Linked DNA regions of Homo sapiens. The protein of the gene in region 1 interacts with the protein of each later gene in a biochemical or structural test. Each region holds a gene or a part of one and is shown in the gene's direction. Other genes may lie near its edges.

The links.
Region 2: the proteins of RIT1 (region 1) and LZTR1 form a complex in vitro, tested with the Homo sapiens proteins (one study listed by BioGRID).

The regions. Positions count from the first base shown.
Region 1 is NC_000001.11:155,901,350-155,908,349, reverse strand, and holds part of RIT1 (GTP-binding protein Rit1), read left to right. Parts: intron 1-3,545; coding exon 3,546-3,619; intron 3,620-3,847; coding exon 3,848-4,039; intron 4,040-7,000.
Region 2 is NC_000022.11:20,983,696-20,992,296, forward strand, and holds part of LZTR1 (leucine-zipper-like transcriptional regulator 1), read left to right. Parts: intron 1-2,145; coding exon 2,146-2,202; intron 2,203-3,808; coding exon 3,809-3,888; intron 3,889-4,314; coding exon 4,315-4,423; intron 4,424-5,093; coding exon 5,094-5,177; intron 5,178-5,929; coding exon 5,930-5,987; intron 5,988-6,690; coding exon 6,691-6,830; intron 6,831-7,932; coding exon 7,933-8,134; intron 8,135-8,518; coding exon 8,519-8,601. UniProt on the Homo sapiens protein: Substrate-specific adapter of a BCR (BTB-CUL3-RBX1) E3 ubiquitin-protein ligase complex that mediates ubiquitination of Ras (K-Ras/KRAS, N-Ras/NRAS and H-Ras/HRAS).

The DNA.
Region 1 (7,000 bases):
CTGAGTAGCTGGGACTACAGGGGCCCATCACCACGCCCGGCTAATTTTTTGTACCTTTAGTAGAGACAGGGTTTCACTGTGTTAGCCAGGATGGTCTCGATCTCCTGACCTCGTGATCTGTCTGCCTTGGCCTCCCAAAGTGCTGGGATTACAGGCGTGAGCCACCGTGCCCGGCCGCGTCTTTCCCTTTCTTTAAAGTAAAACTCAAATACTCGTCTCCTGTAAGAGTTATCTGTATTTTTTTTTTTGTTTTTTTTTTTTAGATGGAGTCTCACTGTCGCCCAGGCTAGAGTGCAGTGGCATGATCTCGGCTCACTGCAGGCTCCGCCCCCCCGGGGTTCATGCCATTCTCCTGCCTCAGGCTCCAGCGTAGCTGGGACTACAGGCACCCGCCACCTCGCCTGGCTAATTTTTTGTATTTTTAGTAGAGACGGGGTTTCACCGTGTTAGCCAGGATGGTCTCGATCTCCTGACCTTGTGATCCGTCCGCCTCGGCCTCCCAAAGTGCTGGGATTACAGGCGTGAGCCACCGCATCCGGCCAAGTTATCTGTTTTAATCAATTTTCCTCCAGTTAACTACTCTCCTGGCAATATTATCTGATTCAACAGCAAATACTTATGTCTTCTGAGTTTCTATTATGTGCCAAGCACTGCTTACCCTCAGGGTACAGTGGTGATCAAAAAGATGAGGTTTCTGTTCTTGAGTTTCTAATTTAGTGCATTTGATTTCAAGCTCTGGCTGTAAACTCAGAAAAACTTTACATTGTAACTGGTAGAGATATAAAAGCATACAAGGCCGGGTGCGGAGGCTTACGCCTGTAATCCTGAGCCTGCAATCCTGTAATCGAAGCACTTTAGGAGGCCAAGGCACCTGAGGTCAGGAGTTCAAGACCAGCCTGGCCAACATGGTAAAACCCCATCTCTACTGAAAATACAAAAATTAGCTGGGCGTGTTACTGCTGCATGCCTGTAATCCCAGCTACTCAGGAAGCTGAGGTGGGAGAATTCCTTGAACCCAGAAGGCAGAGGTTGCAGTGAGCCGAGATTGCACCACTGCACTCCGCCCTGAGCGACAGAGTGAGACTTTGCCTCAAAAAAAAAAAAAAAAAGCATATGAATGTGTGCATATGTATATATAAATTATATACACAAGCGCATGTGTATGTGTAGCTAAAATATTATGAAACTTTACCTCACTACATCTGGTGCACTCTGATATTTTCTTTTCTTTTCTTTTTTTTTGAGACAGGGTCTCACTCTGTTGCCCATGCTGGAGTGCAGTGTTGTGATCTTGGCTCACTGCAGCCTGGACCTCCTGGGTTCAGGTGATCCTCCCGCCTCACCCTACCAAATACCTGGGACTGCAGGCGTAGGCCACTAAGCCCAGCTAATATTTTTGGATTTTTAGTAGAGATGAGGTCTCGCTCTATTGCCCAGGCTGGTCTCAAACTCCTGAGCGCAAGTGATCCTCCCACCTGGACCTCCCAAAGCACTGAGATTACAGGCGTGAGAGCCACTGTACCTCACCCACTCTGGTATTTTCTTTCTTTTTTTTTCTTTTTTTCTTTTTTTTTTTTTTTTTTTTTTGAGACGGAGAATTTCACTCCTGTTGCCCAGGCTAGAGTCCAGTGGCACAATCTTGGCTCACTGCAACCTCCACCTCCCAGTTCAAGCGATTCTCCTGCCTCAGCCTCCCAAGTAGCTGGGATTACAGGCGCCTGTGACCACATCCAGATAATTTTTGTATTTTTAGTAGAGATGGGGTTTCACCACATTAGCCAGGCTGGTCTTGAACTCCTGACCTCAGGTGATCCACCCGCCTCAGCCTCCCAAAGTGCTGGGATTACAGGCATGAACCACTGTGCCTGGCCTGGTATTTTCTATTTTTATTTAGGTTTCTGCTTGTTTATTTTAATGCTGGTCCCGGCCCATTAAGTAGATTTCACAACTCACTAATCCTAATGAATAATTGAGAAGCATTGATTTAATGAGCTCTTCATCTTTGAGGAAGAGACAGAAGCAGGAATTCAAGAAAAAATGTTAAAAGGAAATACATTGAGATGTAAGCAGCAGTTGTTAAGTGAATGAAATATTGCGTGGCTTTTTTTTTCTTTTTAGTTTTCTATATTTTCCAAGGTTACTATAGTAATATGCATAAAGAAATTTGCTTTCAGAAAAGAGAAATTACGAAACTGTGGATTATTTAGAAAATAGTCAGTTAGACCGGGTGCAGTGGCTCACGCCTGTAATCCCAACACTTTGGGAGGCTGAGGCAGGTGGATCATTTGAGGTCAGGCGTTCAAGACCAGCCTGGCCAACATGGTGAAACCCTGTCTATACTAAAAATACAAAAATTAGCCGGGCAATAGTGGCATGTGCCTGTAATCCCAGCTACTCAGGAGGCTGAGGCAGGAGAATCCCTTGAGCCTGGGAGGCAGAAGTTGTGGTGAGCCGAGATCATGCCACTGCACTCCAGTCTGGGTGATAGAGTGAGAGCCTGTCTCAAAAAAAAAAAAAATAGTGAATTATATATTTTTTTCCTTTTTTGTAGTATTGAGGAGGAAGTATAACACATGGTTAATAATGCTTTTCAGTTCAGCAATCTTGGATTTTAATCCTCATTCTGTCACTAATTAACTAATTTAGAGAAGACATTAATATTTTCAAGTTGAATTTTCTTTAGCTGTAAAATGGAGGTAATAATGCCTACTTCATTGGATTATTGTGATTATTGAAGAATTAATATATATAAGTTACTTAGTATAATGTCTGGTAGATAATAACAATTTAATAAATGGTAAAGTTACTTTTCAGGCCTAATTTTTTTTTTCCCCTAAGAGATGGGGTCTCGGCTGAGTGCAGTGGCCCACACCTGTAATACCAGCACTTTGGGAGGCCAAGGCAGGAGGATTGTTTCAACCCAGGAGTTCGAGACTAGCCTGGACAACATTGCAAAATCCTATGTCTACCAAAAATACAAAAAAATTAGCCAGACATGGTGGTAGCACGCCTGTAGTTCCAGCTACTTGGGAGGCCAAGGTGGGAGAATCACTGGAGCCTGGGAAGTCAAGGCTACAGTGAACCGAAATTGCACCACTGCACTCCAGCCTGGGTGACAGTGAGACCCTGTCTCAAGAAAAAAAAAAAAAGATGAGCTGTTGCTGTGTTGCCCAGGCTGGTCTTGAACTCCTGGGCTCAAACAATACTCCTGTCTCAGTCTCCCAAGTAGCTGGGATTATAGGCAGTCACCACTGTGCCCAGATAGCCTAATTTTTTTAAGAAAGACATCTTCTCAGAATCCTTTTTTAGCTTAGAATTGTAGGTGAAATCTTCAGCTGTGAATAAACTACATCATCACCTATGTGGAAAAAAAAACTTCAGTTGAAGACTCAGTTTATGTATCTCAGTGGATTTAGCATGCTTCCTGAGAAAATGTGGGCATTTAATGAATTTGGATACAATGTACTACTCTGTAAGATGAGTTTTAAATAGGCATTTCTTCCGGCATTTATGACTTTATAGTACACCTTTCTTCCCTCCTGTAGAAGATGCTTATAAGATCAGGATCCGTATTGATGATGAGCCTGCCAATCTGGACATTTTGGATACAGCTGGACAGGTATTAAATCCCAGAATGTTATGAGTAAAGGCTTTTTTACTCTAGCAAAGGGGAGGGGAAGGCCTACACAGAGAAGATCAATAGTTTATCTCTCTTAATTTTTCATGCACTCTGACTCAGGATAGCAGGTAATCGACATGCGTTTTCTTTAATCTGAAAGAAATAGCTAATTGTGTGTGTAGTTGGGCTAGATTGCGTCAATACATAATGACCCTTGTTTCCCTCTAGGCAGAGTTTACAGCCATGCGGGACCAGTATATGAGGGCAGGAGAAGGGTTTATCATCTGTTACTCTATCACGGATCGTCGAAGTTTCCATGAAGTTCGTGAGTTTAAACAGCTTATTTATCGAGTCCGACGTACTGACGATACACCTGTGGTTCTTGTGGGAAACAAGTCAGACCTCAAACAGCTAAGACAGGTGAGGATAGAGAAGAAAATACTGTCTATAATCTTATACAATTAGTCATTTTTGTTTCTTGGCTTACAGATTCTTGGCTTGGCTTACAGATTTTTTTGCCTTAAAATAGAAAATCAGGCTGGGTGAGGTGGCTCACACCAGTACTTTGCGGGGCCAAGGTGGGCAGGTTGCTTAAGGTCAGGAGTTTGAGACCAGCCTGAGCAACATGGCGAAACCCCATCTCTACAAAAAATACAAAAAAACATAGCTGGGCATAGTGGTGCATGCACATGTGGTCCCAGCTAGTTGGGAGGCTGAGGTGGGAGGATCCCTTGACCTGGGGAGGTGGAGGTTGCAGTGAGGTTGGGGCTACAGCTTACTGCAGCCTCTACCTCCCCAGCTCAAGCAATCATCCCAGTTCAGCTTTGAGGGTAGCTGGGACCACAGGCGTGTGCCACCACTCCCAGCTAATTGTTTTTACTTTTTGTGGAGACAGGATCTCACTATGTTGCCCAGGCTGATCTTGAACACCTGGACTCAAGTGATCCTCCTGCCTTGGCCTCCCAAAGTGTTGGGATTACAAGTGTGAGCCACAGCGCCTGGCTGGAAGTAGTTTGATAGTAGTCAAATTCATAATGCTTCTCTGTTAATCTCCATTGGAAAAAATTTATAGGGATTTATATATAACATGTTCATTGCAAGACTATTTATGGTAGAAGAAAATGAGAAACAATCTAGCTGTCCAAAAGTAGAAATTATGGCATATCCATAATTAGATGTATCAATTATGGGCTCCTAATAGTTTTCAATATTTTAGTGTAAGCATATATCTCTTTCCCTCCCTTTGTGTTTCTTTCTTTTTTTTTTTTTTTTTTTTTTGAGACAGAGTCTCACTCTGTTGCCTTGGCTGGAGTGCAGTGGCACAATCTCGGCTCACTGCAACCTCCTCCTCCTGGGTTCAAGTGAGTCTCCTGCCTTAGCCTCCTGAGTAGCTGGGATTACAGGCGCATGCCACCACGCCCGGCTAATTTTTTTTTGAGACGGAGTCTTGTCTGTCGCCCAGGCTGGCGTGCAGTGGCACGATCTCTGCTCACTGCAAGCTCTGCCTCCCAGGTTCATGCCATTCTTCTGCCTCAGCCTCCCGAGTAGCTGGGACTACAGGTGTCCGCCACCATGCCTGGCTAATTTTTTGTATTTTTAGTGAGATGGGGTTTCACCGTGTTAGCCAGGATGGTCTCGATCTCCTGACCTCGTGATCAGCCTGCCTCGGCCTCCCAAAGTGCTGGGATTACAGGCATGAGCCACCGCGCCCGGCCTAATTTTTGTATTTTTAAGTAGAGACGGGGTTTCACCATGTTGGTCAGGCTGGTCTCAAACTCCTGACCTCATGATCTTCCCACCTCGGCCTCCCAAAGTGCTGGGATTACAGGCGTGAGCCACCGCGCCCAGCTTTCTTTTTTTTTAATTTTTATTTTAATTTTGTTGTTTTGAGACAGAGTCTCACTCTGTTGCCCAGGCTGGAGTGCAGTGGCGCAATCTAGGCTCACTGCAACCTCTCTGACTCCTGAGTTCAAGCGATTCTCCTGCCTCAGCCTCCTGAGTAGCTAGGATTACATGTGCCTGCCACCACATCCAGCTAATTTTTGTATTTTAGTAGAGACGGGGTTTCACCATGTTGGCCGGGCTGGTCTTGAAGTCCTGACATCAGGTGATCCACCTACCTTGGCCTCCCAAAGTGCTGGGATTATAGATGTGAGCCACCACACCCAGCGTTTTTTTGTTTTGTGTTGTTTTTTAGACAGAGTTTCACTCTTATCACCCAGGCTGGAGTGCAGTGGCATGATGTTGGCTCACTGCAACCTCTGCCTCCTGGGTTCAAGCAATTCTCCTGCCTCAGCCTCCCAAGTAGCTGGGATTACAGGCGCCTGCCACCATGCCCAGCTAATTTTTCTTTTCTTTTTTTTTTTTTTGATATAAAAGCATTTTTAAACTTTATTATTAATACTCAGGACATTAGGAATTTCCAGATTTTTTTCAGTAGCATTTGTAGAACCACTTTTGGTAACAAATACAGTAGTTAGGAATATGCATCCAGTTCAGAATGCATAATAATGTTTCTCCTGAATCCTTTCCGGCTAAAAACAGGGCTGGCACTGTGATGAGATATAGAACGAGAATCTACAAAAAACACTGTAACATGTTTGTTTTTTCCCAGAGGCTACATCCTCTTTTGCTGGAATACTTTATAAATACATATTAAAAAGTAAGGCAACAACTCCAAACAGTCCAAGCTGTTTGCTCAACTCTTTTCCCAATTAGATTTGCAATCCCGGTGATCAGTTTCATGGTTGTATTGTTTAGTGTTTCTTTCTTATTTTAGTAGAGATGGGGTTTCACCGTGTTGGCCATGCTGGTCTTGAACTCCTGACCTCAGGTGATCTGCCTGCCTGCTTCAGCCTCCCAAAGTGCTGGGATTACAGGCATGAGCCACCGCACCCAACTTTTTTTTTTCTTGAGACAGGGTCTTGCTCTGTCACTGAGGCTGGAGTGCAGTGGCGCAAACATGGCTTACCGCAGCCTTGACCTCCTGGGCTCAAGTGATCCTCTTACCTTAGCCTCCTGAGTAGCTGGGACCACAGGTGTATACCACCACATCCAACTAATTTTTTTTTCTTTTTTTGAGACAGAGTCTGGCTCTGTCACCCAGGCTGGAGTGTGACACCTGGAGTGCAGTGCCGCGATCTTGGCTCACTGTAACCTCCGCCTCCCAGGTTTAAGCGATTCTCCTGCCTCAGCCTCACGAGTAACTGGGATTACAGGTGCCCAACACCATGCCCAGCTAGTTTTTTTTAAGTGGAGACAGGGTTTTGCCATGTTGACCAGGTTGGTCTCGAACCCCAGACCTCAAGTGATCCACCTGCCTCAGCCTCCCAAAGTGTTGGGATTACAGGCGTGAGCCACCGCTCCTGGCCCCAGCTAAAT
Region 2 (8,601 bases), on another chromosome or scaffold:
TGCAGCCTTGGTCCTGTAGGCCTCCTTGGGGGGCGGGCTTGAGGATGGTGGGGTAGTCTGGACCCCACCAGGATCTGCATACTGGGCAGAAGAGCCTCCTTGGGCATGGTCCCCTGGCTTCAAGCCTGTCTTCCTCCCACTCTCTTTCCCCAGGAGTAGCCGGTGGGGCCCATTTACAAAAGCAAGTCAGAGTATGCTCCTCCTTGGCTCATCCTCCTGTAATGCCTCCCTGCCTCTCTGAGTAAAAGCCCAAGTCCTCATGAGAGTCTGCTGCTCCTCTGCCCTCAGTCCCTCACTGCACTGGGGCGGCACGGGCTGCCTTGCTATGTTTGGATTGTACCAAGTGCCCCCCTGCTCAGGCCCTTGCACTGCCCATTCTCTCCTCTCACCTTCCTGCCCCTCCTCTGATGTTTCTTGTGACTGAGGCCTTACTTGGCCATCTGGACCAACTGGAGACCATTGCTTCCCCTCCATACCTCTTACCATCTTCATTTGTTCCTGAGGCACACAGATGTTGGTTATTATCCATCTCTTCAGTCAAGGCAGGGCCTGTGCTCCTTTTACCATTGTATCCTGGCATCTAGAAAACTCCATAAATGTTTGTCAAATGAAGGAATGAAATGAAGAAGAGATGCCTACCCACAAGCATTTACTGCAGCCTTAATGAGAACCCTCCAAACCAGAAAGGGCTTTAGTGTCCAGTACAAGGCAGCAAGTGGGAAATGGGGGACCTTCATCCTCAAGAGTGTCCTTAGCAGGTAGTTTGTGTGACAACTGTGTAGCAATAAGCAGAAACATTTTTGCTGCAGTATGACAAAGAAATAGGATACAAATTTGTCTCACACTAGTCTTAACTTTATAAAGACTGCCTGAGTACAAAGAAAGATGGCCTCCTGCGGCACGTGGGGCAAGTAAGGAGGGGGGGGGGGCGGTATCACAATCACCACCAGCTTCTAGGCTCCTGGCTTCCTGGCTGCATGGCCTCAGACACAGCCTTTGAGCCACTAGGCTTTGTTGCCATCTGTGAAATGGAGGTGAGAGAGCACCCACTGGTGCAGACTAAGTGAGACCGTTCAGGGGGCACCCAGCACAGGCTGGGCATGACGGGGCACTGGGCTCCTGTCAGTTTGCCCTTCTTCCCAAGGGCTGGGTAGTGATATGCCAGCTGGTAGTGTTAGGTGGTGCAATGGCCAGTGAATTTGTTTTCTATTTGATTGTATGGCTTTTGCAACAAAGAAATGGCAGGGGCCAGGTGCAGTGGCTCACACCTGTAATCCCAGCACTTTGGGAGGCTGAGGTGGGAAGATCACTTGAGGCCAGGCATTCAAGACGAGCCTGGGCAGGAAAGCAAGACTTCGTTTCTATTTTTTTTTTTTTTTTTTTGAGATGGAGTCTTGCTCTGTCACCCAGGCTGGTGTTCAGTGGCGCCATCTTGGCTCACTGCAACCTCTGCCTCCCGGGTTCAAGCGATTCTGCCGCAGCCTCCCGAGTAGCTGGGATTACAGGCGCCTGCCACCATGCCAGGCTAATTTTTTTGTATTTTTAGTAGAGATGGGGTTTCACCATGTTGGCCAGGCTGGTCTCAATCTCCTGACCTCAAGTGATCCGCCCGCCTAGGCTTCCCAAAGTGCTGGGATTACAGGCGTGAGCCACCGAGCCCAGCCCATTGTCTCTATTTCTTTTTTTTAAGAAGTGGCAGGAAGATCAGAGAGAAGCAAAGGGCCTCTCCTGAGGCACGGGCAAGCACTTGCATTGCAGGGTACAGCTGCAGAGGAAGGGGATTGGGACGTGTGAATAGGGGTTCTGGAGGCTAGGGTGAGGTGTGAGGGTGACTCTGGCCTTTGGGCCATTTCATGCCTTCATGTCAGCTGCTGGTTGGGCTCCTGGTGGCCACATTCATGCTTTGGTCCTGACCCCAGGCAGGCTGGTGTCTGCCTGTGTGGCAGCCCTGGTGCCCATATCAGTTGGGGAGCCTCCTTTGTGGTCACCACTCTTGTTCTTGGGCATCAGCTGGTTGCCTGGCTGTGTTAGTGACCCAGCCCACAACAGCCCCCTACTCTACCCTGGCTACATGCAGTGCCCATCTCTGGGGTCACTGCAGAGTAGACCTGGCTAATGCCACCCTCTCTTCCGGCTGCCTTTCAGGAAGACCATGCTCAATGACCTCCTGCGGTTCGATGTGAAAGACTGCTCCTGGTGCAGGTGGGTGGCCCCGTGCTCCAGGGCCCTGCCTTTCCTCCTAGAACACAGTGGCACAGTGCTGGGTCCCAGTTGCTAGCAGAGTCTCTCTCATCATGGGAAGCTAGAAAGAAGCTTCCAGGAGGAGATAACCACGGCCTCAGGGATGCCACATCCAGAGCCGCCCTGTCAGGCTGAGGAGATCAAGTAACCACCCCGCACCTGCAGCTGCCAAGCTGGGCACACAGGGCGGCACCCTTCTGGGCTGTCCACCTCTACCTCGAGGCTGATGCTAGTATGGGTACAGAAGTTGCTATGTCTTTTCTCTCACACTTGATTTTGTAAGATGGCTAGTAGTTACAAATTAATTTAAAAAATCATTCTGAAGGCTTCACAATTATTTGTCAAAAATTGCTTAAGTATAAAACTCAGAAAAAAGCTAGGAGTTCAAGACCAGCTGGGCAACAAAGTGAGACCCTGTCTAGGAAGATAGATAGACAGATGATAGATAGATAGATAGATAGATAGATAGATAGATAGATAGAAAGAAAGATAGATAGATGATAGAAAGACAAAGAGAGATGATAGATAGATGATAGGTAGATTAGACAGATAGATGACAGATAGATAGATAGTGGATAGATGATAGATGACAGATCGATAGATAGATGATAGGTAGATGATAGGTAGGTAGATTAGATAGATGATGGGTAGATAGATGACAGACAATAGATGATAGATGATAGGTAGATAGATGATAGATGACAGATAGATGATGGATAGATTATATAGGTAGATGATAGGTGGATAGATGATGGATATATAGATTATATAGATTAGATGATTGATAGATGATAGGTAGATAGATAGATGATGGTTAGATAGATAGGTATTAAATGAAATTGATGGACCCCGTGCTGTAAGATGCTGCACTGCTGCTGAGAGCAGGAGTGTGGATGGTCCTGGAGTAGCATGAGGACCTGGTCACATTCTGTGAGTGGAATAAGCAATTTACAAAATATCTGCCACTTGATTCCATTTTAAAAAATTTCATGGAAGCCTAAGTATGCGTAGGAGAGGTGTGCAGGGAAGACCTCAAGGTGTTGCCAGAGGTTTTCTGGTAATGGGAATTTGCATGAGCTTTAGTGCCTATTTTGTTTTTTCCTTATTGGTGATTTTTTTTTTTTAAGTTTCTATGATGAGACAGGTATCACCTTCAAAATACAAAAGTGAAACGTAGCTGGGCGCGGTGGCTCACGCCTGTAATCCCAGCACTTTGGGAGGCTGAGGTGGGCGGATCACCTGAGGTCAGAACTTCAAGACCAGCCTGGCCAACATGGTGAAACCCCGTCTCTACAAAAATACAAAAAATTAGCTGGGCATGATGGTGGGTGCCTGTAATCCCAGCTACTCAGGAGGCTGAGGCAGGACAATCGCTTGAACCCAGGAGGTGGAGGTTGAGCCGGGATCGTGCCACTGCACTCCAGCCGGGACGACAGAGAGAGACTCCGTCTCAAAAAAAAAAAAAAAGAAAAAAGAAAGGCAGCACAGGGATGCAGGGCCACCCTGTGGGGGTGTGGACCTCATGGGTGACCCCCGCTGACTCTCACCACCCCTGTGCCCACCCCAGGGCCTTTACCACTGGGACCCCACCGGCCCCCCGTTACCACCACTCGGCCGTCGTCTATGGGAGCAGCATGTTTGTCTTTGGTAAGCAGCCTCTTGCCTCCCAGGGGCTGTGTCGCCCCGAGGCCCACAGACACCCTGCCCTTCTGCAGGCCTGGGGCATTTGTGCTCGTGCTGTGTACAGCAGGGGCTCTCTCTCCACCCGTGGCTTTGTCTGCCAGTCTTCGGAATTCTGCGCTGGATCTGGGACCCCTTGCCCTAACGGCCCTGAGCTCACAGGGTTGGGTGTCTTTCTGTGTTACTGAGCTGTGGCTGGGAACAGTGTCCTGCTCATCTCTGTGTCCCCAGAGCCCAGCACAGAGGCAGACAGGCAGCAGGTCGTTCCGGGGCTTGTGGAAGGAGTCCTGGCTTATGCATTTTCAGGGGGGCCAGATTCTGCTCCACCTTCCAGGGTTTGAAATCTCCAAGACTGCCCTTTGGGTTTGACAGTTTCTCACTCTCTTTACTCAGGGGGTTACACTGGGGACATTTATTCCAATTCTAACTTGAAGAATAAAAACGACCTCTTTGAATACAAGTTTGCAACTGGCCAGTGGACGGAGTGGAAAATTGAAGGACGGTGAGAAACTTTGCAGAAACATTTGGGACAGGCTGGGTCCTGGGTGGCATTGGACCTGGGATCTGCCCCCTTTTGCCTCCCAGATGAGGACCCTGAGGGCACGCAATAGCAGGGAGCTTGGGATTGGTGGAATATCCCCCGGTGCAGCTATGCATGGCCTGCTCCCAGCCCTTAGACTCCCTCCTTTCAGAAGAGACCCAAATGGACCAGGCGTGGTGGCGCATGCCTGTAGTCCTAGTACTTTGGGAAGCCGAGGTGGGAAGATCACTTGAGCCCATGACTTCAAGGCTGCAGTGAACCATGTGTGCCCCACTGCACTCCAGCCTGGGAGACAGAACAAGACCTTGTCACAAAAAAATGTTCAATAAGATCCAATGTACTGCTGATGGCGCTTCTGGGGTCCCGCTTTTTGAGCACCCCCTTTGATATTTTGGGGGCACCTAGGAGAAGGTTCTGTGCCTCTGTGGCTGTCTGAATTCCTCTTCAAGCCACTAGTCGGCCTCTGGGGCTGTTGTTTATTCCTAGTGCCTTGTGGAGGTCCTGAAGCCCCAGTGTCGGGTGGATGTAGCCATGCAGCCTGGCTGTGGCCCCTGCACTGACCACATGGGGCTGGGTGGCTCAGGTCTGTGCTGGGCGGCCTCACTCCCTCCCCTCTTCCCTCACACTCCAGGTTGCCAGTCGCTAGGTCAGCCCATGGGGCCACGGTGTACAGTGACAAGCTGTGGATCTTTGCTGGCTATGACGGCAACGCCAGGTGGGTGGTGGTCCGGCCTGTGCACCCCACCTCCGACAGCACTGAGACCCGGAGCAGGCCGTCCTGGCATTTGAGGGCTTAGGCTGGGAGGATTTTGAGTGCCTGGTGGATTTTGAGTGCCACTCTGTCTGGGGGTTTCTTGGGAGGGGGATGGGGAAAGAGGAGGATGGACAGATGGAGGTGAGGGCCACTGGGTGGAGCCCCGTGGCTACCAGAGTAGCTTGGATGAGGATCCTCAGCCAGGAGTTGCCCTGCGGAGCTGAGTTGGTGGGCGGGTGGGCGGTGCCCAGGCTCAGGCCCAGCCCTGGTTCTTGCCCAGGCCAAAGGCCTTTTCCTCCTTATTTTAGAAAGTTGGCTTTGCTCTCTTTTTCTGATCACAAAAGTAGCATATGCTGGTTTCCCAAAACTTCAGCATCATAGAAACTCCTAACGATGCAGTGATGGTGGCATCTGGGATATCTGTGTCCTCTCCCCACCCAGGAGGGACACTGAGTGAGGAGCTGGCACTGCCACACTGCCCTGATGTCATGCATGAGAGTACTTGTTCTGTCTGGGCCGGGCAGGGGGCCTGGCACAGCAGGGATTTGAGGCAGTGGCTGCCACCCCACACAGAAGTTCCCGCCTCATGGCCGCACAAGTCTCCTACCCTGTGTGGGGGTGGGGCTCCTCCCTGCAGCCATCCCTTCCAGCCAGGACTAGGCCCACCCTGACCACCAGACCCAAGGGGTCCTCACTGGTCTGTCCTAATACAGGTTGAATGACATGTGGACAATTGGCCTCCAGGACCGAGAGCTCACCTGCTGGGAGGAGGTGAGGGGCGTGGGGAGCCAGGGCGCAGGTAGAGGAGGTGAGGGGCACGGGGAGCCAGGGCGCAGGTGGAGGAGGTGAGGGGCATGGGGAGACAGGGTGCAGGTGGAGGGAGGTGGGAGGCAGGGGGAGCCAGGCTGGGGGTCGAGGCTGCTTTCTTCCCCTTGCAAAGCCCAGCCTCGACCTGAGCCTCGCTCTCCTCCCTGGTGACCTGCGGGCCTTCACGACCAGTTCCTCACTGTGGCTGCACAGTGATTCGAGGTTTGGTGCTTTGGATGGGCAGAGTGCCACGTGTGTGAGGATGTGGTTTTGCTTTAACGCACCCTTTATTTCAGTGCAGTGAGGGCCGTCTGCTATCCAGTGTCCTGCTCCCTGGAGCTCCCCCTGGGCTTGCTTTCCCCTTTAGAAACATGGAATTTATTTATTTATTCATTAAAAAAAATTGTTTTTCAGTCTTCTGGGCATGAAAAACATGAGTTTAGCCCCTGATGATTTAACCCTGACGATTTTAACCCCAGCTGTTCACAACTGGGCCCCGTGAAGTGGATGAGACAGGGCTATGAGCTGTTCCAAGACAAAGGAATCTGTGAATCCTCATCTGGGGAAGTTTCAAGAATAAAAGCAGTCCCATCTCAGCAGTCTCGAGTGTGGTGAAATGTGAGCGGGCCCTGTGAGGCCGGGGCTGAGCTGTCCTCTCCCCCTGCAGGTGGCCCAGAGTGGCGAGATCCCCCCATCTTGCTGCAACTTCCCCGTGGCTGTGTGCCGGGACAAGATGTTTGTATTCTCTGGGCAAAGCGGAGCCAAAATAACCAACAACCTCTTCCAGTTTGAATTCAAGGACAAGACGTGAGTACTCTGGCCAGTGGGGTGGAGGGAGGACGGTCAGTTCCCTCGAATCCTTCTGAATATGAAGAACGCCTCTTGCACCTGGTGGCCATGGTAACCATCCTTGTGAGCTCTGCAAACAGCAGGAGGTTACAGCCCGGAGCAGGGATGTGCGGTGCCCCTGGCAGGTCCCCAGGATATGGCTACAGCTTAGCAAGATAAGGCCTGGCGAGGAGGCCCCTGGCTAGGCCTCCCTCTGAACGTGAAGGACGTCCCCTTCCTCGTGAATAGCTTGGTCAGTGCCACCAGTAACAGACGTGGCCTGCATAGATCTCAAATAATGGCAGAAGACCAGAGGGGCCTGCAGGTCCTGAGAGGTCTGGCCCATGCTGCCCCTGGCTGCTGGCCAGCCCTTGATCCCTGCAATGGGGCTGCAGGAGAGGGCACAAGGAGTGTGAGCTGCAGGTACAGGGGGTTTGGGAAGGGACTTGGGAGCTTCCCTGGAGGCCACGGGTGCGTGGGAGGAAGGGCAGGGAGCCCCAGGATGAGGGAAATTGTCAAGGGCCTGGGGCTCAGCATGGAGCCAGATGGCATAGCCCTGCCAGGCCAGGATCTGTTCTGAAGTCTTCAGCTAACTTAGCAAAAGAGAGGACTTGCTGGGAGGTACTGGGAAGCCTGGGAGGTGGAAGGTGCTGGGGCAGCATCAGGATGTGGGGTACAGGCAGCTCCCAGGATGGGGACTCAGCTGTGGGGATGCTCTGACTGGGCAGCGTGAACACAGTGACCTGCAATGGTCTCTGCACAACTTTACTCCCCAGAGAGCAGGACTGCCTGGGCGGGTCAGATGCCACCCTCCTGCCCATCACTGCTGCCTGCTCCATGGGGAGAGGGGGGAGCTCTGGCAGGACCCTGCGGTGGGCCACATGGAGCCAGGCAGGGCTGGTGCCCGTGCTGGATGGGGTGAGAGGTGCTCAGCGCAGGTGTCTAGGCCCTCCCTCTGGACCCTGGGCTAGTCACCGTAAGGGATGCAGGGGGACCTCCCAGTGAAGGCCTGCTGTGGGGAGGCCCCGAGGGTGAGCAGGAGCCCCTGTCCCAGCATTGATTCACTGTTGTGTACCCCCAGGTGGACACGCATCCCAACTGAACACCTGCTCCGGGGCTCCCCACCACCCCCGCAGCGGCGCTACGGGCATACCATGGTGGCCTTTGACCGCCACCTCTATGTGTTTGGGGGTGCGGCCGACAACACGCTGCCCAACGAGCTGCACTGCTATGACGTGGACTTCCAGACCTGGGAGGTCGTCCAGCCCAGCTCCGACAGCGAGGTGAGGGTGCCCAGGGGTGTCCTGACCTGCCAGCTGGACACCAGTAGCTCCTACCCTGCTCCCACCCAGCTCCTCACAGCTTTGGGGCCCCCTGGGGTTCCAGACAGCTACCAGGAGCAAGGCCAGGACACCTGGGCCTCAGCCCTGGACACCTGCCCCGGCCTCCAGCCCCAGCTTCACCCCACAGCCTGCAGGTAGTTAACGCTTCACACCCCATCATGGCTGCATGGGGCTGCTGTGCTGCAGACCTTTCCTGGGAAGCCCACGGCCATGCAGCTCTTCCTTCTTTCAGAACCCACTCTCAAGGCCAGGATGGTGGGGGTCTCTGGGCACCTACCTGGCCCTTGCCAACTGGTCTCATGCCCATGTGTCTCCCCTCTTCAGGTTGGTGGGGCTGAAGTGCCCGAGCGAGCCTGTGCTTCCGAGGAGGTGCCCACCCTGACCTATGAGGAGCGGGTTGGCTTCAA